Regions from separate parts of the Homo sapiens genome. Here region 1 is linked to region 2. The links come from fine-mapping of genetic effects on gene expression. A gene starts in region 2. The other region holds a variant in brackets. All regions are shown on one strand. Distances are between the middles of the regions.

Evidence for each region. PIP is the estimated chance that this variant, and not a neighbour inherited with it, causes the effect.
Region 1: its variant is fine-mapped to the expression of COX18 in whole blood (INTERVAL, PIP above 0.99).

The regions. Positions count from the first base shown.
Region 1 is chr4:73,648,054-73,664,899 of GRCh38, reverse strand. No RefSeq gene overlaps it. Among named protein-coding and RNA genes, the nearest start is that of RASSF6, 36 kb to the right of the region's middle. RefSeq lists a silencer at 3,068-3,273. The variant C/T (reference allele first, on the strand shown) is at 10,029.
Region 2 is chr4:73,065,690-73,076,499 of GRCh38, reverse strand. COX18 (cytochrome c oxidase assembly factor COX18) reads left to right here and starts at 6,784. Exons shown (of 6, transcript NM_001297732.2): 1 at 6,784-7,183; 2 at 8,371-8,471. The coding sequence starts at 6,851. ANKRD17 (ankyrin repeat domain 17) reads left to right here. Exons shown (of 34, transcript NM_032217.5): 34 at 210-3,124. The coding sequence ends at 269. It overlaps LOC112268467 (a long non-coding RNA gene), which reads right to left and starts at 6,554. Exons shown (of 2, transcript XR_002959797.2): 1 at 6,471-6,554; 2 at 4,678-4,787. RefSeq lists enhancers at 6,433-6,949, 6,496-7,015, 6,950-7,465.

The DNA of each region.
Region 1 (16,846 bases), 590 kb before region 2:
TCCAGGGGAAAGGAATAACATTCTACTCTCATGAATAAAAATTACTGGGGCCTGTCTCAGCAGAAAAAGTAATTCCTGGGAAGAGAAGTATCTCTTATGAAAGGCTTTTCCCCAAAACTGGATGGTTGTGTGGGAGAGGAGTTGGAGGGTGCAGAGGAGGCACAGAAAGGAAGAAATAAGCATAATAGGATGAGTGAGAACCCCAAACAGAGCCCCACTCAAGGCTGCTGTCCAGGAACTGGCAGCATCAGCATTGCCTAATGTTGGGAATGCAGGATCTCAGGCCCCACTTCAGACCTCCCAGGACCAGAATGTGCAAGTCCACAAGACCCCAAGGTGATTCCAGCACACATTACAGCGTGAGAAGCAATGGTTTAAAACAATGGTTCTCCACCTTGGCATCACTTTGAATTTTCTGCAGAACTTTAAATAAGCACTGATACTTGGGTCCAATCCCAGAACTTCTGATTTAATTTTTCAGGAGTATAGTTGGGGCACTGAGGATTTTTAAGCTTTCTTAAGTGATTACAATGTGCAGCCAAGATTGAGAACTACAGATTTAGTGGACTGATAATGGCAGTTTCTGTTTATTTGCTCTCCTCAGTGGCACTAGGATGTATGTAAATTTCTGTTTTAGACTTGAAGCCATGAGACCCTGTAAGAGGAGAATTTTTTATGATCGGGTGTAGGACACTCGACAACAGGTCATGGAAATCTGAGTGGTTTGCATTATATAACAGATCTTTCCTTACAAAATGTACATGTACAATAAATTTTTATAAATAAGAATTATTTTGCACTCTTAATATTTCCCATACACTGTACTAGACAACCATGCCCATTATTTCTAATCATCCCATAAGCTCTACAAAGATAGTGTTATTATCTCTCTTTCACAGATTTGGAAACTGAGGCTCAGAGATGTCAAGGGATTTCCAAGGTGACACATCTGATAAACAGTGCTGTCAGGACTTGAGTACAGGTCTTCTTGTCTCCAAAGCTGAAGTTCTTTACTCTGCCCTAACTGCTTCCCTTAAAAACACAAATCACATTTCAAAACCACCAAGTTTGTCATTTTAGTAAATACACAAGATGAATTATTTTGCAAGGCAGAGTTACTTGATGCAATCTCTCTTAATTTGCCTACTTTACACATTACAAAGTTTATGTAGATTTTCCCAAATGTAATCCAAGCTTTGATTTTAGCCCTCACATGGTGAGTTTTAAAAACAAATAACTAACTAGTTATTCCTCCTCCTTTCTTCCTGTTTTCCCCACCTTAACTCCAAGTCTTTTATAGAGTGAAGTTCAATTAAAATAAAATAAAATAGAGTATTGCCATGTAAGTATATTTAGCCTTCCAATTACCTGAAGGAAGTAATAAAGGAATAATTAAAACATTATGGTTCTGTGTGGGTTTAGTGGGCTTGGATGGTAATTTTCCTGACAGGAGCACACAAACTGATGCCCAGTAAGATGCTGCTGTACCCTGTTCTCAAACCACTTAAGAATGATATTCACGTTGCAAAGGAAACTCCCTATTGGGAACCCCTGGTGGGGCTTCCTTTTGAACATTTATACCACGATGTACCAGAACACACTGCTTTTATAGTATCAGACCACCCTCCAGTCTCTGGGTCAAAAGTCTGCTTAAAATGAATCCAGTAGCTGATAAAAATGACCTGAGGATGGAAAGAGAAGCCCCCAAATCACACTGGGCACCACACAGATGCCCAAGCAGATAAAAGTGATGCCTTAGAGAGACCATCAAGTGGCTAGTTCACATGCAAATGTTGCTCCAAGTACTTACAAAGTGAGGAGCTCTATACTAAGTGCTTTATATGCATTTTTCCATTGAATCTTCATAGAAACTCTACAAGAGTCTGTTAATTTTGTTTTACAAATAAAAATGCTGAGAAATGGAGAAGTTAAGTGACTTTCACAAAACCATGTTGCTAGTAAGTGATGAATTAGGAATTCAATGGCCACGATCTAAGTCCAGAGCCCACGTTTTTAGCCCAATACTGCCACTTATAGGTAGGATGTAATATCATTTTCTATAGAGATATTAAAATGGCAGATGCTTGACAGGTCTAACCAGCACCTACTCCCCCTGTTCCTCTCCAAACGGACCCCTATTTTCCTTTAAGGAAATAACTGTAGTGACCACCTGGTAATTACGCAGTAACCATGATTTCTTAGTGGACTGACCCACTTCCAGCTCAGGGGAAGGTCTTCAGCATATTCTTACACCCCTTGCAATGATGGTCAATTTACCTTGGTTCAATCTGAGTAAAGATCTGGAATTATCATTTGGTGATTGTGAGAAGTGATGCTTTCTACTTGGGAAATGAATAAGGAAGTGTGCAGCCTTAGCTGTTACGGCAGCCATCTTTGTGACCATGAGGTTACAGCCAGGCTGAGGATGAAGCCAGCATGAAGACAGAGGCCAAAATCTTGACCAAAAGAAGTCTGATGCTGGCTCTTCCTTTGGTTTACAGTTTTATGAACCAACAAATCTACATTATTGCTTAGTTCCCAAGGAGTTGGGTTCTCTGCAACTGAAAAGTCTTATCTGATACATGGATACCAATACTGTATGCTTTGTTGTCTTGAAATAATTCTAAGTGAGGAATTTACTTTCAGCATGCTATGGTCTTAATAGGAGCTCCATTGTGGACATCTTCCTGAAGATAAAAATATAGAATAGTCTCTAGACAAGCTCACTGCTCAGATAATTGCTCTACTGCTAATCTAGACTCTATAATTTGAAATTCATCATAATAGGTTAATATGAATAAAGGCATTCACAATGAGTCAATTATATTGCTATTCATCAACTTGTGTAAGTGCCTGAAGCACAATTTATGTCAAACTCAAGGAACACAAGCTTCATATCCTGAAAATTTGGGGAAAACGTTATTAGTCATAGGTACCTTTTAAACTAAAAACAGGAAATTTTGTTGTGAAATAAAACATGACCAAACTAATTGTTTCTCATTTTATTCAAAATCGTTTCCCCCATGAAGCTTTCCTCAGGAATTGAAAGAATGATATATACACTTCATGACTCAAGTCTTTCCACTGACCTCACTTACCAAGAGCTGCAGAATGTGGCTCCCCACATTGGCTATGATGCTCACCACAGCCCTTCTTATCATAACAGACCTCTTTCCTATCCACATTCCATGTGCACCTCAGCATGTTTCCTGTGGGTGTCCATTGGTCTTTCTGTTTACTCCCAGATAGTTGGATCAGCTGTACTCAAGATGGGAGGAAACTTCAAAATGTCAAAATGCCTATATAAGCAAATGGCAAGAAGTGTACCAGCCAAAGGCAAACTGGATTGTCATCTCCTTGAAAGTAGTTCTATACTCAAATTGTCTAAAGTGACAAGTATACAAATATATAATGAATATGCATGTATATGTGCTTATACATATATATTAAAATTTATTTGGGAATGAGGAAGATTGTTGAGCATTTGAAAAAATTTCATTGGACTATTAACTTGTCTGAAGAAAAGTATAATGGAAATTGAGGAAATCAGGAAAGGAAATATTGTACAAGTTAGGAAAGTTAACCTGGAAGGCTAGCTTATGATAATTGTGGGTTTTGCCATTGAAACTACTGTTAAAAAACACAACTATTTTTGCATCAACCTAATACATTATCCCATAATTATCCCTTGGAAGTCACCTGAGGGAGAATTGTTTTGCTCTCCAATAAATCTAACCAAGTTAATCTGAAATTACTAAAAGGTAAATTTTTAAAGTTCTCAATGTCCTCCTCCAGGAACACACATGGTGCGGGGCAGGGGGTGGGGTGTCTTACTAAAAGGGCATTAGAAAGAACTTACAGAATGTGGCCTTGTGTCACGTGATTTGGAGGAGGGTTTGAGAAGCATGGCTTTGCTCTAGATCGGATGTTGTTAGGAAGTGATATAAGGTCATGACTGGATCTCTCAATAATTCTTATCTAGGAAGAGGGAAGACTAGAGTCAAGCTAAAACTGTCAGCAATAAACAAGCAATAGCCACTCTAATTAGCCAGGATTGGGAGATATTGGGCCATGTTTGTGATTTAAACAGATTTCATTCTTTGCCTGTGTTCATGCATGGTTACGGAGAGGTCTTGTTTTTGTCTTGATTCACCATGGTCATAGGGTGGCATTGTCTGATGTCGGTATTCTGTGAAATCATTTATTTGAAGAGGAGATCGCTAAGACATAGCTGGAGTGCCAGGCCAGCTCCTGGATGTCAGAGGCATCTTTTTCTTTCCCAAAGCCATACAAATTTTTCAATGTCTAATCATATAAAGCAAATCTTTCCACTAAACAACAACAACAACAAAGTCCAAAAAGGCTGAAAAAGATATGTGTAGATTTATTGTATGAGTAGGAAATTGTTTTTTCATGTTACCAGTAACTTTCATTAGAGAAAGTTGATAAACTGTCTCATCTTCCTCATTCAAATTTGGATTAAATTTTTAGACTTTGTGAACACAAGTTTTCAAAATTAGCTAAACAATTCTTCATGCCAAGAAAAACTGAGCAGAATTTTTGAGAGTCTACAAATACTTGAGCTAGAAAAGTCAACAAGGTGTGGACTATACAGAAGCATATATGTTTATGTATGCCACAGCAAACCTGTGAGACTCTTTTGAAAAGCAATTAAGCCAGGCATGGTGACTCACGCCTGTAATCCCAGCACTTTGGGAGGCCGAAGCGGGAGGATCACCTCAGGTCAGGAGTCCAAGAGCAGCCTGGCCAATGTGGTGAAACCCCGTCTCTACTAAAAATACCAAAAAAGAGAAAAAAAAAAAAAAGAAAGAAAAAAAATTAGCCAGGCGTGGTGGCAGGCACCTGTAGTGCCAGCTACTTGGGAGGCTGAGGCAGGAAGAATTGTTTGAACCCGGCAAGCAGAGGTTGCAGTGAACTGAGATTGCACCACTGCACTCCAGCCTGGGCAAAAGAGCGAGACTCTATTTCAAAAAACAATAAATAAATAAATAAAATAAAATGAAAAGCAATTAAGCAATGGAGGTCAGGAGGTATAAAAATATACATGTGCCTTGAGTTAGTAACACTGCTCTTAGGACTTTATCCTGTAAATATTCTTTCAAGAGAGAAAAATTGCATGCTTAAGATATCTCCATCATATTATTCATAGTAATGAAAATTTAATAGCATTCTAATTTCAAACAATAGCAGAAACTTTAAATAAATGTGCATCTACTTCTCCTAGACTGTCTATTAAGTCGTAGCTTAAATGATCATTCCTGCTGCTTTAATGGCACAGCAGAGTTGTTCTGCCTTGAATCAAATGGGTCTTTGTCCCTTCACTTTTATCAGTTACTGGGTGTGGGCAGGCCCCAGAAGGGCATGACCTTGGGTGAGGTGACTCTCTAGCTGGTGTGATTGCTGAAGTGCTCCAGTGGCAATGAAAGAGAATCTGGGTGGCACAGCTGCATGTTCACTTCCGTCCACCCCTAGCACTGCTGGGATCCACTTTTTTTCAATATATGGGGAATAGCTCTTCCAGAATTCTATGGCCTCTCTTCCTGGGGCAAACTTAGGAAAGACAATTAAGTGGGAAGAACTATAGTCCTTGCCTCTGCAACTGGCTGTGGAATTTCAATTGATTGTCTCCCTCCTTCATTGTTCACTGTAGATCTCCCTTCTTTTCAGCTGCCACCGCTGTTTGTCTTAGAGGCTTTCCTGGTGACGTGACCCAGAAACTCGTTCTCAATGAGCCTACATCCCTGATCGCAGTGCCTTTCTCAAGCCAGGATTGCTACACTTGTCTATTTACCATCAAAATTGGGCAAGAGAGCACCAAGAGGCACTAAAGTAGATCTTCTGAGTTCAGTGCATGGGTATGGGGTGCCACCTAACATCACGCTTAATCAGAGACACACACAGGAGACAAAGGAATTGGCTCATGGCCGTGAGATTCACTGATTGTATCAAAAACTGAATCACCCAGAGGTCAGCAGCCCAATAGAGCATTAGAGTGGCCTGCCAAAGGCACAACTGAAACACCAGCCTAGAGGTGATATCTTACCACAAGAATGGGAGCCATCATCTAGGTAGTATATGTACCTTGAACCGAAGACCTTATATGGTGCAATGACCTTAACCAGATGACTGCATGAGTTTGAGAATAAAGAGGTGAAAGCAGAAGTGGTCCTGCTTAACATCCATCCCAATGATGCACTTGGGGAATGTATGCTTTCTTTCCTGGCAATTCTGGAAGCTTCAAGGTTAGAAATTTTGTTCCCTATCAAGAACACATTAAATAGGCCACAACTAAGCATCCTATTGAATTATAAGATATGGCCTCTGAAAGCACTTCAGTCTTTTTCTGTGCAGGCACCAGCAGGCAAGAAAAGGAGTCACCATCATGGCTTGGTAATGCTGATCACGGATTTGACCCCGACCATCAGGAGGACGTAGAAGGAGATAGGCCTACTGATACATATGATAGGGGCAGGAAGGAATATGCTGGCACTGGTATGTCAGGAACTTAAATCTTTGAAGGGTTTCTCTTCTACCCTCCGGAGCACATTTGTCTTAAAGCCTCCAATGTGCCAGCCAATTCTTGCTCATCTGACCTGATTACCATGATGTCATTGACACAGTGGATCAGTGTGATATTCTGGAAGATGTCTAGACAGTCCAATTGCTTTAGACTATATTATTACAAAAGATGGGGCAGCCTCAGGGAAAAACTCTGAATATATATGATTATCCATTCTATGTGAACGGGAACTCTTTTTTGATAGGAATAGAAAAGAACACTTGCCAAATCAGTAGCTCCCCACCACATATCTGAGGCCAGGTTCATCTGCTCGGTCTGGCACAGTGGCTGCAGTTAGGGGTGTTGCTACCACCTGGTTGAGTTTGTGGAGACAATAGTCCACCAGTATCATCTGTTTTCTTCAGAAGCCACACTGCTAAATGAAATATGACAGGAACAACCCCCACCATGTCTTCCAGATACTTAAGAGTGGCAACAATTTTCAACTGCCCTCCCTCCTCTAATATACTACCCTGCTTTTTACTTACCATTTTGACCAGGAATAGGTGGGTGGAGGTGGATCATTTAAGTGCTTGTATTTGACATTCTCATCTGTGACAGCTCTTACCCTACCCACCAAGGACATAACATAAGATTTGTACCAACTATCATGTATATCAAGCCCAGCTACATATTTGGAAGTAGGAATGACTCCCACACAGGTGGGTTAATTAATGGGTTCCAGTATTAAAAACAGGCTTAGGTCTGGAAACTGGGAAAAGGACCAAGACATTTTATTGGCACAACCGCACTCAATCTCTTGACCATCCAACCTTGATTTCTTCTGATGGTACAAGTTGAGTACTGTCCTTGTTGGTGGCCCCGCTATTCACCTCTAGGATATACCATGTTCTATTAACCGTCACGATCATTCTCTGCAGGTCAGGGTCCTACACCGACCACTCTGAGCTTGCCACTCATTATATCGATCACATCCACTTGTTCTTGATGGCTAAGTACAGCCAGATGGCCTTATGCATCAGCTCCAGCCAGCCTGGGAGATATACCACTGAATCTACTGATGTTGATGCCAATCTCACCAACATGTTCCCAGTGGCCTTCACAAGTGATCTACCCACCAGGACGTTCTATGCGACATAATCGTCTTGTGGGGTTTTCAGTCTTACACAGTATGTCTACTCCAGCATACCCACTTCCCTGACTCCTTTTTGTAAAAATAAACTTCACTGAGGTAGAATTCACATATAATCAAATCACCAAATTTACAAGAACAATTTGGTGAGTTTCGAAAAATGTTTACAGTTGTATAACCAACACCACAATAAAAATATAGAACATATTATTCACCTCAAAACATGCCTGTAATCCCAGTAGTTCGGGAGGCCGAGGCAGGCGGATCATGAGGTCAGGAGATTGAGACCATCCTGGCTAACACGGTGAAACCCCGTCTCTAATGAAAATACAAAAAAAAAAAAAAAAATTAGCCGGGCGTTGTGTCCGGCGCCAGTAGTCCCAGCTACTCGGGAGGCTGAGGCAGGAGAATGGCCTGAACCCGGGAGGCGGAGTTTGTAGTGAGCTGAGATCGTGCCACTGCACTCCAGCCTGGGTGATAGAGTGAGACCCCGTCTCAAACAAACAAACAAACAAACAAAAAACATTCTCTTGTGTTCCTATTAGTTAGACATCTTTCACCACCCTCCGCCTCTGACAGCCATTCTTCCTGCTTTCTATTACTACAGTTTTGCCTTTTCTAGAATTTCTTATAATTGGAATTATATAACACATTGGTTTTTTTGTATGTGACTTCTTTCACTCAGAATAACGTTTTAAGATTAATCTATGTTGTGAGAATTAGTAGTCTACTTTCTTATTGCTGAAAAGTATTCCACTCTATGGATATACAACAATTTCTTTGGTTATTCAATATTTTTTAGACATTAGAGTTGTTTCCAATTGGGGGCTATTATGAGTAAAGGGGCTATTATGAGTAAAGCTGCTATGACCATTTTCATCCTAGTCTTTGTGTGAACTTAGTGGGAGCACACTAATATTGCATTAAGATTTTATTTGCTTTTATCTGATAACAAGTGATGTTGAGCATCTTTTTATGTCTTTACTTGACATTTGCATGCCTTCTTTTGTAAAATATTTGCTCAATTCTTTTGCCCAGTTTTTAAATGGGTTGTTTGTTTACTAATGTTGAGTTATAAGAATTTTGTATATATTCTAGTTCTTTATCACATATATGTTTGGTAATTATTTTTCCCAGTCTTTACTTACTATTCTCTTAAAGCATCTTTCCTAATGTTTACAGTGTTTTTAATGCTTAAGAAATCTAGTTATTCAGTTTTTAATTTTATGATTTGTGGTTCTTGTATCCTATTTATTAAATCCTTGCCTAACTCAAGGTTTTGTGTTTTCTTCTAGAAATGTTTGCAGTTTTAGTTTCTCTGTGATCTTTTTCTAGTTAATTTTGTATACAATACAGGATAGTGATCCAAGTTTATTTTTGTATATAGAATACCCAATTGTTTCAACACCAATGCTTAAAATACTTCTTTTCTCCATGGTCAAGATCAATTGATCATAAATATATTAGTCTATTTTTGGACTCTATTGTTTTTTATTATCTCTCTTTTTGCCAATACCATAGTTGTGATTATATTGTAGTTTTATAAGTAAGTCTTAAAATCAAATAATGTGTCTTCCATCTTTGTTCCTGTTTTTCAAAGATTTGTTTGATATACTTAGCATTTTCATATAAATTTCAGAATCATTTTCTAAAATATTTTCTAAAAAGAAAAGCAAACACAGTAGAATCTGAAATTCTCATTGTTCAAAGACGCCTGGACACTCAAGGGACTCAAGGCAGGGACGTTCAAGGCAGGGACTCCATTATTTCTGAGTCAAAAAGATCATAGGCGGGGTGACCATATGTGCCAGCTTGTTCCAGACAGTTCCTATTGACACCTATTATTTGGGCATAATTATTAATAGCATCTCCTTTCACTTTCAACAGTGGCCCTGTTTGGATAATAAATTATATGGAACCCTGAGCCTTGGATGCCTTTTCTAAGACTGGAAGCTCCCATGTCTATGACTGCTAGTTGTACTAATACCTCCTTGTTATCCTTCCAAGAGGCTGCCAGGGGATGAGGCACTGCTACCCTCAGGATCCACTGACACTGTTTTATTCACATTCTGAGGAAATGTCTCCTCTTACCTCTTCTTATGCTTCAAAGCTCTGCTCTGTATTTTCCCCCTTCTTTCCTCCCTCAGTACAACTTTTTGGATACCTTATGTTTTAAGAAAGCAAAAAGCCAAATGAAGGTTGCCTCTAGCAACTTATTTTCCACCTCTCCTCAGACAAGGGAACATAAGAGCTGGGAATCCAAAAAGGAAAAACATCTGGGGAAACAGAAATCAGTATCTCACTAAAGTATCCTTCTGTGTTTGTATCTTCAGAGTTTGTTACCAGTGAATAGCA[C/T]GGAAAGGAGATGCTCTATGAATACTGGAAGGAAGAGAGAGAAAAGGATGACAGTAGGGAGCTCACATTAAAGAGAAATAACACATTATTTAATGAGTTCCCCAGCTGATGCCACAACAAAACAGCCTCCTCTGAACTTTTATGCTCTTTTAAATCCTCAATCTATCCCACCACTCTGCCGACTAACAGGTTCAAATCATGCCCTGCTGCCTACCTGCAGTATTACCTTGAACCTGTTATTGACACTTACTCAGTCTGAGTATCCTAAAATCGTGATGGCGATACCTACCTCATTTGTTGATTATAAGGCTTAAATGAAAACAGCGTAATAAAGTGCTTAATACAGTACCTGACCTCAATAAAGCCCTTATTACCCTCAGCAAGTGTGTGAGAAAGGAAAAGGAGCCCACATGCAGAAAAAATGGCTTAAGGTGTGTTAGCATGCTTGTCCCTGTATTTCATTAGAGGCTGAAGCATACTAGGTATTCAATAAATTATTAGTACGCATGCATATTTCTTAAAATAAGGATTTCTTATTATTAGCATTATCCTTGCTGTCTCCAAATAGCAAAGGAGCAGCTGCTCTTCAACCATGGAGAGGAGATGACTGTATATTAGAGGATACAGTGTTTTATTTCTGTTATATTCTATTGTCTATTCTATTTGTATTTGTTTTATATTAATCTTCATAGGGTTTCTAATACCCTTGTATTGTCACTCCAGCCTCCTGTTCTGCAGGCTAAAAAATCAAGCTGATTACAGTTCTTCTTTTATTTGTCACAAATCAAAAGAATGTAGTGAAAACAGTTAATACTATGAAAAGCACAATTAGTTACTTTATCACTAGGTCAGGTGGCAGCTCAGGAAAATCTGTTAATCTAGAATTTCTGTTGACATATAACATTGGAGTCAGCTGGGCCTCAGCTCGTTCCCATTTGAACAGGCTGTTTGTTGACAGTTATTCCGTGCCAGGTGCAGCTGTAGCCACTACAAACACGCAAAAAAAAAAAAAAAAAAAAAGTTTACGTCACTAGAGGGCGCTGCAGCCCAAGACCTGAAATGAGGACTGCGTTAACCCCACTGCACTGAAGTTGCAGTGCGGTTTGTACTACATTACATTGTGTTTTGCTGTATTGTGCTGTAATGTATTGAATTGCATCAAATTAAATTACATCATTTGATATATATTTGGATTTATATGGTTTTTAAATGTGTTGCCTTAGAGAAAGCACAATTTGCTATTATATTTTTTGATGCCTATAGTTATCCTTTTCTTAAATAACAGTGGCTGAAATAGATGCACAGCAAAACATAACTCACCTCAAGAATTTACCAGAGTCATTCGCAAAGAGACAGCAAGTTGTAGTTGAAAGAGAATTGGTCATTTGGTCGATCTTGCCTCTTCGGAGCCTAAATATTGCTTGTGCACAGTGCAAGAACATATTTGAAAGACAGACATGATTTATATTTATTGTATGCCATTCTCTGGGCAAACTTGGGTCAAGTATGTAATCAAATATATCTCAAAGTGGATCCTCTGATTACTATGCTTAAATCATCTGGGTGTTTCTTTAAAATGCTGTTTCTTAACCTACCATAGACCTAAGAGATCAGGACTCTTGTGAGGCAATGGTGGAAGTGGTGGGGAATCTGCATTTTTAGTAAGCATTCCATGTGCACACTGAACTATTGGCTTAACCCATTCCCTGTCTTAGTTCCCTCCCTCTCTTCATCTGAGGAATTAATGAATTAGCTCAATCAATTATTTGGTACAGGTGCTTCTATGGAGTAATCACCACTACCAAGGGAGAGGAAATGTCAGTTCTCCTAGTTGCAGAAGCAAAGCTCAGCTGGGAAGGATGAGACTTCAGCTTACTGCCATGCATTCTTGTGTAGCCCTCACTCTCAGCCATGGCAGGGTCCCTGAATGTGAAGGCGAGCAGGCCAGCGCACAGGCACAGAGTTCAGCAGTGAAGGTGCAGAAGTGGTTTGTGTCAAGCCATAGAAAAGAGAAGCAGCAAACAGTGGTCAACACCCTATTCCAAAGTCTGGTTCCAGAACCAGCAACATCAGGATGCTCTGGTATATTTCCCCTTCCTCTCCTGGAAGCATGAGTGGAGTTTTCTCCAACATTTACTGTAAGAACCTGGTGGAGCTCCTAGAGTTAAAACTCACAGAAAGTGAGAACCTCCCCATGACTGTCCCCTACCCCAGATTTTTAACTCCCAGGCTTGTCCATGCTGAGCCTCCAGCAACTCATCAATGCAGTTCAGGTTTCCATACCCAGCACAGGTGCCCAAGGTGGTTTTCTACTAGTAGATTTCTGCTTAGGTAAGCTGTGATTCCCTGTGTCTGCCTATCTGTCTCTCAAATTTTGGGAGCAGCACTTTACTCTGTGACTTCACTTCTCTAAGAAGAGTTGTTGATTGTTCAGTTTGTTCAGATTTTTACCTGTTGTTAGGACAAAGTAACAAATTCTAAGCTCTTTACATGCCAGACCAGAAGCCAGACATCTCAATTTTATTTCTTAGATGCATAACAGATTTTTGACTGAAGAGAAGGAGTGCTAGAGGCAGAGGAGGGACCTTTCTTCTCCAGGAAGAACTCTCTGAGGCCTTGGACTTGAGCAGTATGATTTGGGCCTGGTAGCAATGTGCACAAGGGAAGCGGGAACCCTCTCCTCACTGATGTATGGACCACTTGGGCCTTTCCAGGGTTCACAGTTTTGAAAGCCTCAGGATAAAACACCTTTGTCTCAGACTTGGATATGAGCTTTTCCATAAAGAAACCCAACAGCAGAGGAATTGGTATGGCCTAAAATGTTGCAGATGGGGGGCAGGGAGAAGAATATGGGAGGACTGGGTTGAAATCTCCCAGGAGAATCTAGAAAACCTTAGAAGGGATTTTTCTGGGGACTGACTTCTCGTGCTATGTAGTTAAGGAACAAATGTCAGTGAAATATGGGGGTTACCATTAACCCCAGGTAGAGCCCACATTTCACTCATACATGAGTGTCAACATTTCCTTTTATAGGGGTTTCTAGGGAAATACAAATTATTAGAGCAAAGAAAGTTGGGAACATGACAAATGTCAGTGGTGGCCAAGAAAATGTGTTGAATTTGGCAATGTAGAGAGCCACAAATAGGACTCAAGTAGTAACATGTATGAAAATGAGAAATGGTTGATATGTGTGCTGGAACTGCAGCTTCAACAAAACTGAGCACAAGCTCCTGCAGCCTCAAGTTCTCCAACTTCATAAAAGAATGGCAAAAAAACAGATCCTCACAGTGACAGATTGACAGGAAACAAGGTGACCCTCTGGCTGTAAGGTTGCAATGGAAATGTGAGCTGTTTCGGATAACAGCTGATGTGGAGTTTGGAGAAGAGGTGCTAATGTGTCCGTTAATCCCTTCTTGTGTACCCAAAGGCAAAATTACTCAGAAACCTGAAGACTGGAAAAAAACTTGAGTTCTTACTCAGGAGAGCTCAGCCTTCTGCAAGCAAAGGTGGTCACGGGACCTTAGTCTGGACACAGGAAGCACAAGGAATACACTGGCTTCTCAACCCCCCTCCCTGCTATCTTCTGTAATTTCTCCTTAGGGCTTCATTTTGCTGGGGTGGGTGCCAGGGCCACGGGACAACTGGTAAAGTTGATGTGGATTGATGTTTACACATATCAGGAAAGGGAAGAAGAACTATCCCCAAAATAATCCTCTCCCACTCCTTTCCACCTCATGCACTAACTGTTATGAAACAACACTAGATCCTAGAAAGATGCTGTAGAAATTAAAACATGTTCTTCCTTTTGTCTGTTGTTTTAAATAACTATGGTATTTGAAAACTTACTAAATTCAAAGTCTTTTCAATTATACGACACCCTGAAAACATATCCTTCCTGACAAGATCATAAAAATCTTGTGTGCTTATATATATATATATATATATATATATATATATATATATATATACACATTATTTCTATTTATATATGTATATGGACATGTGGGTGTGCAAGTGTATATGTTGGAAGGAGGGAGGGCAAAACTGGCAGCCACTTCAGGCATCATAACACCAGCTAACACCTGCACACTTGCACATACTTACTCTGTGCCAGGAGCTGTTCTAAAGGCTTTACACATTTACTGTGTTTACTCATTTAATCCTCACAACAATTCTATGAAGTAGGTATTACTATATTCATCATTATCCCCATTCATCTGATTGGACAACTAAAATACAGAGAAGTCAAGAATGAAGAAGGGATTTGGTCTGAGGCTGTGAGTGCCGCAGTTCCTGGGCTACAGGCCCCTCTCCTTGGAGTCCATTTGAATGTCACCAGACAGGCAAGACTACCTGACTATGCAATTGAATTCAATTCCACTGATAATGCCAGAAAAAAATTCCTATATTAGCTTCCTTGTTCAGAACGTTGCTTGCAGAAACATGTTGGGAGGTTTAAACGTTTGCCTGAAGGATAAAAAATGACAGATTGGAGGAAAGGAATGTCACATTTCAAAACATGTCTGGGGAGAAAAAAGACTTTGAAAACTAAGTTTATTTGATTTCTTTCCTCCTTCCTTTTAACCACACCTTCCCAACATACCTTTTTCCACTGACAGGCCTCTACATAGTCCAAGACCGAAAGAAAACGTTCCATTTTCTCCACAAACTACAGGTCTGCTTGGCATTGCAGGGCTGTAGGGACTGAGATATATTTGTCTGCCAGTGGTCTGATTTGATTTCTTTCCTCCTTCCTTTTAACCACGCCTTCCCAACATACCTTTTTCCACCAACAGGCCTCTACATAGTTCAAGACCGAAAGAAAACACTCCATTTTGCCCACAAACTACAGGTCTGCTGGGCATTGCAGGGTTGTGGGACTGAGACACAGTTGTCTGTGAGTGGTCTGCCTTAAAGGGTGAGTACATCCAAAGTGTTAAAGAGAAGGTAGATCTGACATTATGTGTTCAAAGAACAGTCTTCACCTCTTCAGCAATTATAAAATGATCCTTGTAACCACCATTTGATGTGTAGCCACTAATGGTTGGAGATTATCATACGCTGTCACTAATCCATTAAATAACCTTGTGTGCTATTGTCCCTAGTCTACACACAAGAAAGGCATCTGTATTCTCACTGTCTTCACCTGCTCTTTCTCAGGCTTTTAATGTTCCTTGCTCCTTCCTGACACAAATCTTTCGCATATGCTGTTTCTTCTGACTATAGCACTCCCCACACTCCCATTAATAAAACCTAGAAATTATTTCAATGTGGAATTATACATTCATTTGTGTCATTATTAAATAATGCCTATGTCCCACTTGATACCTAAGGTCCATAAAAGCAGGTATTATAGGTGTCTTTTGCTCACTATCATGTCATTAGAAAGTAGTGCAGGCACAGATAGGAACTCAATAAGATAGGTCACATTAATTAACTTTCCCAAATTGGCTGAGCTGAGGGTCAAATTTTATTCAGCCAAGATCCAAAGCTGAGCTCTCTATTGAGCTGTACTGCCTCCAACATATTCATGGCACTTTAGGAAAAGAAATCAACCTTAAATTAATAACCTATAAAGAAATGCCAAGAAAATGGAGACTAGCAGATGACATGACCACCATAGTTGCAAAACGCAGGCCTTGGGCTGAGTGATATTGCAAGGTCTTTCAACTTTCGAGCTTGTAAAGATGCTCCATCTTATGTACCTGTCTTCTGTCATAGCTATCTCTCCATATCTATCTAGAAATCTGTAGTTTTCGCTTTCACCACTCTTCCTTTCCTATTCTTTCCTCATCCCACACTTAATTTCAATTGCCCTAAGTTTATGTTTGTCAGATAGATAGACAGATAGATAAATATGTGTGTATATGCTTTTGAAAATAATTAAAATGGATATTTGAATCACAATAGAAAAACAAAATCTTCAAACTAATTTTTTTCTAAAATATTTTTCTTTCTATTGTTCACATCTACTTTCATTTTTCTTTTAGTTCCATCTCTCAGTTATAATTCATAACTTCTTTGCTGGAGTCATAAATTTTGAAAGCATAAGTTTCTTGCTTTTGAGATCGTTGCCCTCTCTATCTCACACCTCAGTAAACGGCAGTAACAATTGCCATTTATTATGCACCTATTATGTAAGGCAGGTGGTGTTTCAATTCCATCTCTCTGTGTAATATGACTCCTACCTGAGGTCTGTATCAAAGTCTTCATTTTACAGGCGAGGAAATGAGGGCTTCAAGAGGTTGAGTCTGCCTAAGGTAATGCATTCAGTATGGAACAGGGCCAGAATTTAAATCACTCCTGATCCTAGTGTCCTTGTTCCTTTTGCCACACCACAAAATATCTAGAACAGTTAAACTCAATTTAAAAGAAATAAGAAAACAAATGATCTCTAATGCCAATGACTACTTGAACCTATGAATCAGTAAGGGCAGATGTCAAGCTACACTTACCTCTCCATTGTCTCTCTCAATCTAACATTTGCCACCTCTCACTTCTCACCACTTGCTCCTACAGAAAGAAAACTAAGAGTACCTGACTAAATAGTCACCTGAAAACTGTCTAAAGAACTTATTCTTTATTATCCCCCAGAAGAAAGATAAATAAATACCATTTACTGAGTTTCTACTTTTGCCAAGTACTTTGTAAAGGTTAACTCATTTACAATAATGCATATAATAGTATTCACATTTTGTAAGTGAGAGAGACTTGGACAGGTTAAAAAATTAAATCTCAAGTTTTAGTTATGAGTCCTTTTGTTTCCCTTTATAAACTCCTTCTGAACAGTTTCATCCACATGCATGTTTAAGTCACCA
Region 2 (10,810 bases):
AATGATTTTTTTTTTAAAGGTTGTAAATCAGATTCTGTTTGAGGGATAAGAGGTAGGAAAATAATAGAAAAAAGGTTTTTATCATTTTTTTCCATTAGTTCCTAGTATATTGCAAATTGAAGAGTACCTCCTTAGTTTTTTAAAAGTTTTATTTTAATAAAATATATGCTAGATATATATTTTGTAAAATGCATGCTCTATATTCATAGGTGTGGACTGGACCCTGGGCACCTCACATGAACAGTGTGCATATGAACCAGCTTGGCTGATGAGGATCAGCTTGTTAGCCTGCAGATTCCTTTTCATTTGGAGGAAATCACAAGTGGCCGAAAAAAAAAATTATGCTCCCAAATCATTCTACTGATGTGCTTGACTGAAGTGTGTAGGCTTTTTGCAGAAGATCTTACTAACTGACCTATTTTCTGTGAACATTTGTGACTGCCCATTCCCCATCATCATCCGTTTTACCTTAGTTAGCATTTTTCTTATCATTTTTCTTTTTTTCTTTCCCTCTTCCCCTTTGGACATAACTTTCTGTTGAAGCTGTTCTTTGGCTGGTTGGTTTTAGTACTGTAAACTGCTTCTGAGCAAACACGGAAATTTAGCAAAATTATGTAAACTTGATCCTGAAGTTTTAGAATGGCAAATAAATGTACAATTGTTTACATAACAGAAAAGGCTAAGCAGAAAGTAAATTTCAATATGTCAGTATAGAGGCTCTACTTTATGTAGACTTAAATTAATGTGAGATATGTACCTTCATATTCAGAAATCTGGATGTTTCCTTCATACATTAAACTATTAATAAGCATAACTTTTCTACTGGTGTAATTTAAGTATAAAGTAAAATAATGGGCATTATCATTGGATGTTTCCCCACATTGGCTTTTAAAATACCCATCTTGCTTTCTTTTTGGTTTATTTGTAGCAAGGCACATATAGAAGAAGAAATTTCTGGCTTTTCCATGTTGTTTTATTACCTTTTCTCACTTTTAAAACTAATACAGACTTATCTCCTCACTCCTTTTTCTCTCCTTACCTTTACCACTAATACCAGTAAAATTATCTTTCTGATAGTGAAAAGGTTCTGTCAAGATTTTCACTGTAATGGCTGCTACAGAGATGGACCATCTTCATCATCACCAGTGGTTTCTTCTAATTATAAAATGTTTAAACTTTCTGAGAATTTAAAAAGCCACCACTGTTCCCAGTCAGCATATACAAGCTCTTAATATTCTGTTTATTAAATAATTCAATGTACTATTTTATATTGGATGATATTGATTCTTAACATTGGCTTTTCAGTCATCAACAGTCAACATAAAAATTTCAATTTTCAGTAATTTAGTGGAAAATATCTTATTTCTTTTTTCAATTTTAAAGGCTTCCTGCTTTTTTACCCTTGTATATTATCAGTGAAAAGGATCAACAGTTAATTTGAGCCAAGTAATAAAAGAAATTCTGCATTTGTCACGAAGACAATTTATGGTAGACAGATAAATACACAGATTACAGTGTAAAGTCTCCATTTAACCTGTTTATAAAAGATACAAGGCCACACTAAACTACTCAGTGGGATTTATATATTCCATCCACTTGAAACAATAAACAGTAATGTATCCAAGAAGATTATGTGTCCTACCCTGTCTCATGGAAAAATTAATTATATGGTTGAAATGTAAAAGAAAGTAAGCATAAAAATCGAGTAATGTATATATCAATTTGTCTTCTTTTTTTTTAATTAGACATAAAATTTCACACTGGTAAAACATAAAAACTAACTAAAATTCATATAAATCACCTAGAGTTGATGATATTAACATGGTTCCTTGGTTGTCAAGTAAATCAAATGATTTCTTCCATCTGAGTAAAGAGTAAAGCCTGAGTAAAGAGTAAAAAGATGACTTCTCAAACATATCCAGAAATTTGTAAACAGTACACTCATATCTTTTAGTTTAAGAAGTGGTCTTAAAATATATAAATTTGTTTTTCCACCTATGTTTAATATGCCCAAATTTAAAGGGAGAGCTAAAAGACAGCCTACAAATAAATATAGCTATGAAATAAAATTATAGCACTTTACTAAAAAAGGGATGTAATAATGTTATTTAACGAAGTATTTTATATATGACTTGCCACTATTCTATACATAAAATTTTTTTTCTTAATTCTTTCCTGTGTTAACTAGGGTTATTTTCTATTTAAGGTAATCCTGCTGGAGAACAGATGCTATCCAATATTTATTACAACACATGAGTTGTGTTGTTTCACAATACTGAATTTCTTAGGTGAGGTATTTTATTTAAAAAGGAGGGGGAAAACTCCTATATTTTCTTGACTTCAAACCTGTGGGGCCAGGGGATATAGATTGAAATGCTCCGTATTTAGTCTTGGGGATCAGGCTTGTTTAGTACAATACCATGGTTTTAGAAGTCTGTACTAGGAACATTTTTAAAATACATTTTTTATATTTCAGATGTAATGCAGTGCACTTTTATTTGAACAATAAAAAAACCCATAACTTTTTGAGACCATGAAGGTCTTTTATTTTTTAATTTTGAAAATATGTGGTATGTGTATATGCAGACTACATCATTGTTTTAAGAAATGATTTAACTCTTGGACATTACACTTGGGTTAGTTCACACCTTAAATCCCCAAGTAGTTAATATCTCAATTATTGTATAATCAGTTTATACCATCCATTCCCAACAAAATTCCACATTTCATGCCTTTTCAACATACATTTCAACATAATCAACATATTTACAAACACTGACTTCACTGTTTATAAAGAAGAAATTTCCCCTCCTATTTCCCATTACTGAAAAGTCAAGTCATTTTTATTGATACATGAAAATTAATTTTTTTGTAAATGACTACGTATAGTCATTTTTCTCCTTTGGAAAAGGTAAATAGCTTATTAACTAATCCTGTCTTGTTCTTCACAAAAATAATAGTCCATCCGTGTTTTGACTCAAATAACCTAAATACACATTTTGTAAAAATTTTGTACCCTATATTACTTATTTTTAAAACAGTACAGTGTTAGACTAAACAGGAAAACTCAAAGTTATAAAATCTCTTCAGATCCTCTAGTTTATTAAATCTATTTTCATGTTGATGTTTTTCACAACACTTATTCCCACAGATCTGGCATTACAGAACATTTAAAGTGTACCAAAACATTGTTTTAATAACAGATTTTAAAATCAGGATTATTTCAAAATGATTAAAATAGCAAAGAACAACCAAGTCACTGCTTTTAATCACTATAAGCAGAAATTCAGTATTCCATTCTCAGTATATTTTACTTACGTAAATGAATCTATGCAGATATCTTACACTTTTAATGTTTGCTGTCCTTGACACTAAATTCCGAATGTTCCTTAATGTCTTTGGAAATACATATACTATTGATAAATGCTTGCTTAAGTCACAGCATTTGATTAACTCAGGTGACTGGAATTTAAGATGGGAGCATTATCAGTGCTTTAATAAGTCTTAATGTGTTGCACACCTTGATTGCAAAAATATCACTTGAATTTTGGATAAGTGTAAAAGAAAATGTGCTACTGTGGCTTTGACAGAATACCTTTGTAACGTAACAAAGTACAAACCTAATATCTGTGGTGTAGGAGGTTGCATATTATACTTCTGCTTTTAAATGGATTCACACTTCTGAAAAACAAAAGCCAACTTTGCATTTTCAATGCTTGAAAACCAATAATAAGAAAGATGGCAAGGGGATGTCTTTCAATAAAGAGAAAAAAGCCAATTCTAAATTAGGTAGCTTTGGTTTTGAGAAGTAGTGCCTTAAGTAAGAAAGAAAAACTGAAATCTTAATCTGATTCTAAGGGATCACTAACAATTGCTCATGGAAATAGTTTATTTCTTAAAGGTGTTTTGTTGTTGTTTTATATATACCCTAGTAAGCTACAGTCATTTAGTTTGACAAACATTTCAGAAGGCATATTTGGGAAAAGAGAAGACTAAATGATTACATGATAATTACACCCCATATTCAAATTTTCAGCACTTAATTCAGGCTACTACAACAAAAATACTGTTGACTGAGGAGATTAACAGAATGTGTTTCTCACAGTTCTGAGAGCTACAATGTCTAACGTCAACATGCCAGCCTTTATGGTTTCTGTTGAGGGCCTTTTCTCTGGTTTGCAGATGGCTGTTTCCTTTTCAGTTTCTTTGTGTAGGGCAGAAAAAGGTCATCTTGCTTTTGTCTTTTCCAAGAGACAGGATCTCTGTCACCCAGGCTGGAGTGCAGTGGCATGATCATAGCTCACTACAACCTCAAACTCCTAGGTTCATGTGATCCTCCCCACTCAGCTTCCCAAAGCACAGGGATTTACAGGTGTAAACCACCATGCCCAGCCTTGTTTCTTCCTATGAGGGCACTTACCCAATTCAAGAGCTCTACCCTTAAGACGAATTACCTCCAAATACCATCACCTTGGGGTTTCAAAAAAGAATCTGGGGAGGACAAAAATATTCAGTCCATAGCAAGCTCCATTCCTGTGTTTGGCACCATGATGGTTAAGAATTACAGAGACTGCAGAAAGAAAATGTAATACGTAGTCTCTTCTTAAGGAATTTAAAGTTGAGAAATTAACTGACATAACACTAATATCAAAGACTGGAATAAGCTAATTATAAATGTTGAACCTTTAAAAATGTTTTAATACATTGCACAAGTTCATTTGCAAAGAGGATTGACAAATGATTTCAGTTGGTCCACTCAATAGTTGTAGATCATTTTGTACTGTACTCTGAAACAAAAGATACAAAATAATCACAATGTTGTATAAACAGTACCTATACATTAGTAGTAACACTTTTCTTTTGCATTGGGCTTTAAAATTGACAACTACTTCCCCCAACATCCTCTACCAAGTAGATAGCAAGTTCTAGTCATCCCTGTTATATAGATTAAGAAATGTGTTTATACACATATATGAAATTAGCAGAAACTAAATATTCATAAATTTTATTTAGATCAATATTCAAACTTAAGGAAATACTTTTTAAAATAAGAATGTAATATATGAACACAATGTATAGCAAAAAATGTGTTCCAACACTGAAATCTCATTTGTGACCCCGATAGAACTCCACAAAATTAAATCTTAGGAATTGAAGAACAGCTTACAGCTTTTTTTTTTTCTTTTCTTGCTTTTTTTTTTTTTTTTTAAAGAGATGGGAATCTTGTTGCTACCCAGGCTGGAGTGCACTGGCTCGATCATTGCTCGCTGCAGCCTTGGACTCCGGGGGGCTCAAGCAATTCTCCCGCCTTAGCCTCCTGGTAGCTGAGACCACAGATGCAAGCCACCACATCTGGATGATTTTTGTATTTGTTGTAGAGATGAGGTCTTGCCATGTTGCCAAGGCTGATCTCTAACTTCTGCCCTTAAGGTATCCTCCCATCTTGGCCTCCCAAAGTGCTGGGATTACAGGCGTGATCCACTGTGTCTAGCAAAAATAACTTTAAAATTCTGTTCAGATTATGAACAGCTGAACAGTAGTCAGTAGCAACTGATGGCTTTTTTGTTAGCTTAATAAATGGATAAAGAAATAGATTGGTAGGTTTTTCTTTTAGAAAAAGTTTATATATAGTGTGTGTTGTGCTGTGTGTTTAAACACATTTAAAAATTCATGTATAGATTTATCAGTCAGTTTGGAAAGCAGATGAATTCCAGAATCCTGAGAAAGTTATCGTAGGGTACCCTTGGTTAGGTGCACAGTGAAGGGCAAACAATAGCTGGCGTTTGACATTACCCAACATTGTTGGAGGCTTCTTTTCCTAAGTAAGTAAATAAATAAATAAATAAAAATCAAGGTTTACTCCTCACAACATATTTTAGTCTGTAGTCTAGGGGTGACCCTTCGGTGAGGAAACTCCTCCACAACATTCCATTTTGTTGTTTCCAGGAACACAAAAGTTAAAACTATATAGTCCATGTAGATTCAACGTATTCCTTTAAACCAGAAGACAGCCAGTGCTGCTGTTCAGGCTCTTTAAAGCTTATATAGGATACAAGTAAACTCAAGGAATTCACCGTACTGCCAGTGATAGTTTCCCTTAAATAAAGAGATGATACTTTTACTATAAGATTTTTGCTGCTATTTATCATGGAAGACAAAACACCGAAGAAATTCAGTTTGCAGTTGGTGGTCCAAATACTAACTGGAACAGATGGGCCAATTAAATCTACAAGAGACTGAACTATCCCTCGTGCTTAACACTCAGAGTCAGCAAGAAACATGCGTCTCTCTACAAGCAGGTACTTTAGCAACGTGTGACTCTTGAGTATGATAATCTATCGTAATCGCTAACGGAAGCAATCAGGTGCACGTAAAGAGGTTGGGGATCAGCTTCTGGTCACAAAAAACCGAGCAAGGATAATTCCACTACAAATGACTATTAGCTTTAGTGAAAAAGAATGGTAAGTTACACGGTGTAGATGAACTTTACAAGGCGAGAGCTCCCTAAAGAACACCCAGCCTGGCGGAGGGCAGCAGGCTCCACCCATGTCTCTGCAGTTTTGGTCCGGCCTCGGACTAACTACACCCTAGCAGCGGGAAACTTTCGCGTGTGCGCAGTAGGCCTGTCCAGTGCCGCGTGGGAAAGGCGGGACTTTCCTATCTCTTGCGTCACATCCACTGCGACGCAAGACGTCACCGGCTTGACTGGGAAGGTCAATCGCGGCTGCAGGCAGGCGCGCATGCGCTTTATGCCCGCTGTTGCTGGCGCGTGCGCGTATCAGCCTTGGCTGGCCGGTGTATGTCCGCTGGATTGTGAGGCCCGGGATCTGGGCTCCGCCGTGGTGCAGAAATGCTGTGCCGGCTCGGCGGTCGGTGGCTGCGGCCGCTCCCTGCCCTGCAGCTTTGGGCTAGGGACCTGCCGCTTGCGCCGGTTCCTACGAGCGGCGCCAAGCGCCCCACTCTCCCAGTGTGGGCAGTGGCACCAGTCTCTGCAGTACATGCGAACGGCTGGTACGAGGCCCTGGCCGCGTCTTCGCCGGTGCGGGTTGCGGAGGAAGTACTGCTCGGCGTGCACGCCGCCACGGGCCTGCCCTGGTGGGGCAGCATTCTGCTCTCCACCGTGGCCTTACGGGGTGCTGTCACGCTGCCTTTGGCAGCCTACCAGCACTACATCCTGGCCAAGGTGAGGGGCGCCGAGCCGTGCGCGTACCCTGCGCTGCAACCCCTGCGGCGGAGGAAGGCCGACATTCACTCAGGGTTTTCGATCGCACGATGTTGCCTTCTGCAGTGCTTAGTGTTTAATCATCGTGACCATTTCATTGTGACCATTTTAGCGTTAAAAAAAATTGAACTAGCATTAGGTGTGTTAAATAAGATACTTTGTGACACGTGTACCTGTCATTTCTTTTGTCTTACTGGATTTGTGCTCCAAGCACAAGTGGTTACTATACTTGCTCTCGGGGAACGGAGACAAAGAAATCAGTCGCAGAAGAAATTGTGTTGGCGAAACCTACAAAATTTATGTCTTAAAAGTTTTAATAGCCAGTATGTCTGCAGTGTCTTTCGTCCCAAAGTATTCCAGCTGGTCTTTCTTATTAGGAAGAAACTACTAGACTAACAGTTTGCGAACTTGTTTCCTCTCCAGACCCGACTAAGACTGTGTCTGGTTGGTCGCAGTTACTTGACCTTTTAATGCTGAATCCTTTTTTCTGAGGAATCAGGCTAGCAGTACCTTCCTTGCCTACTTCACAGCGTTATCAGAGCAAGTCAGATAATACGGGTTAAAGTGCTTGATTATTCAAATGGGATATTTCAAAAATAGTGGCTTTCTTGTTTTCAGGTTGTGAGCATGGGGAAAAAAAACCGGAAACAAAACAGGAACGGAATCAGCAGCAACATTAAGGCAGTGAGCCATTTTACAGGAAGAATGAGCACAGGGCAGGAATAAATGCTATTTTTACTTTTGATTTGTGGCTATCACAGTGTATTAAAGGTTCTTAACAAACTGCTGTTTTCTCCGCTTACGTTACTAGGAAATGTAGAGATGGAACAGTAAAGCCCAGGGTGCAGTTCTTATCTAATATTTGTAACCCTGTGAAGTAGGTGCTGTTATATATTTTATATGTGAGGGAACATGATTTTAGAGGTTAAGTTACTTGCACAGGATCACATGGATAAGTATGCATTGTGAATTTGGTTGTGACTGAGGACATTTTAAGCAAATTAACATCTTGTGCTTAGAATTAAGATTTCTTGATATGATCAGTAAACTACATTTTTAAATGACTCGAGGGAATAATGTGAAAGATTATGAGTCATTATGAATAAAGATCCTTTATGTGCTCATAACAAAACCTATTTTTTAGCTAGGTGGAAAATTTGCAGCCAGAAATAAAAACTATTGCCAGGCATCTTAACCAAGAAGTTGCAGTTCGTGCAAATCAGTTGGGGTGGTCCAAAAGAGATGCCAGGTAAGCTAATTATATCCACGTAAGACCATACGCACACATACACACACACACACACACACACACACACACACACATACATAAATTGTGATGTTAATTATAAGTTTGAGTATTCTGTAGTTTTGGCAGTAAAGTATTTCTTTTTTTATATATATATATATATATATTTTTTTTTTTTTTTTTTTTTTTTGAGACGGAGTTTTGCTCTTGGTGCCCAGTCTGGAGTGCAATGGTGTGATCTCGGCTCATCACAACCTCTGCCTCCCAGGTTCAAGCGATTCTCCTCCCTCAGCCTCCCAGGTAGCTGGGATTAACAGGTAGGCACCACCATGCCTGGCTAATTTTGTATTTTTAGTAGAGATGGGGTTTCTCCATGTTGGTCAGGCTGGTCTGGAATCCTGACCTCAGGTGATCCACCCTCCTCGGCCTCCCAAAGTGCTGGGATTACAGGCGTGAGCCACCGTGCCCAGCCTACTCTTTTATATTTTCATAAGTTATTAATATGGCATGATAGTTTCATATGCTGGACTGAAAGCAAAGAAATAAATAGATAAAGATAAGAAGAGTATGTTCCTATTCTTTAGGGATTCCAGCCTATTGAAAAAGACAGACCTGTAATCAAATAATGATGTCAGTGAACTAACTGTTATATAAAGATGATGTACAAGGAGCTAGATCATCAAGGAAGGTCAGGGCAGGGTTCACAGGATGAAGGCACTTTGCCATTCTTTTGTGATATTGGTCAACAAATGACACAGGTTATTTACAATCTTGACCTTTTGGAAAAGATACAGCAGGTAATAGCCTACAGGAAAGAGGAGGTAGAAAACAAGTGCCACAGTAGAAACACTTTGATAGCTAAGATGCTGTCTATCCTTTGTGGTTATTCTGTGCAGTTGTCTGCCTGGGTTCTTGGAAAGTCCCAATCTAAGGGTGCTTGATTGCGCCCAAGGATGTCTGCATTCATTCACTGGGAACTTACAAGCCCTCTTGCTTCAATCAACTCCTCAATCAGTTTCCCAAACTCTAATCCTTACTAGACTGCGAAAAATTATTCTCCTTTTTACAGCAATGGAAAAAGGCCTTTGTGGTATCAATCTGTGTTATGTGTATATTATTAACCATATATTTTTATATAGTTGTACATTTCCCAACTATCTTTAATACGAGATTGTGTCCTATATTTAGTGTTAAAAAGATCTGACATTTTAAAAAATCGTGGTGATAGCTTAATGTCTTTATTTGGTAAAAATTAAAAGTTGACCTATAGGTTTGAAATTTTACTTATCAAAGAAGTCGAAAGCTTCAGCCATAGGCCAAAAGAACCAGATTAATAGCTGCTTGCCTGGGTTATCAACGCAGCCTAGATAAGACTTGTGGCACCTTGCTTAAGCAGTACTGGCAGGATGGTTGTGCAGATACAGCCTTACAGATGTTTCTTTCTAGGAGGAAACATCTGAGGGCTTCTGGCATTTTCTTTTCTTTTCTTTTCTTTTTTGTTTTTTTGAACAAGACAGAATCTCCCTGTGTTGTGCAGGCTGATCTCAAACTCCTGGCCTCAAGCAATCCTCCCACTTTGGCCTCCCAAGTAGCTGGAATTACAAGTGCAAGCCACAGTGTTGGCCAGCTTCCTGCATTTTCAATAGTATTGAGTCTTGAAGGGTAAAAGACGGTGTGTCAGATGGACAGCCAGGAAAGTGGGCTTTCCACACAGATGATATAATACAGTACTTCCAAAGGCATGCCTATGCGGAAGTCTGATTTGTTGGATGAACTAAAGTCATTCAGACCAGAATATGCAGGTGTCTAGAGGAGTAACGAGATAAAATTGGAAGAATAGGCAAATGTGAAATTATGGAGGACCTAGAATGTCTTTGTGTACTGTCTTATTATACACTATAATTTGACTAAATTCAGAAAAACTATTGAATGCCTCCTCTGTACAAAATATATGATACAGGAGATTTAAAGATGAATAAAATAGAACACTGTCCCCTAAACTAAGAATACTTTAGTTTTTGTTTTTTAACTCCTATTCTCTTGGACCTGAAGGAAGACTGTATTCTAAAAAGTAAAATTTCAGGAAAAAACAGTAGTAACTAATATGGTTAACAGAGAAACAGATTAAAAATATCTTTGTGAGATAGTTGATTGAAAAATGGAGACTATTTTGACAGGCCAAGAGCATACACAGTATAAAACCACATAGCTCCAAAAGGTATATTCAGGGATGAAGTGGTTAAGTTTGGCGGGAGTGGAGAGATTTGATTAAAGTTTGCTTTTAGCTTCCATATTTCCAATATTAATTGTAGTTATACCATGTCAGTAGTGAAATTTACCTT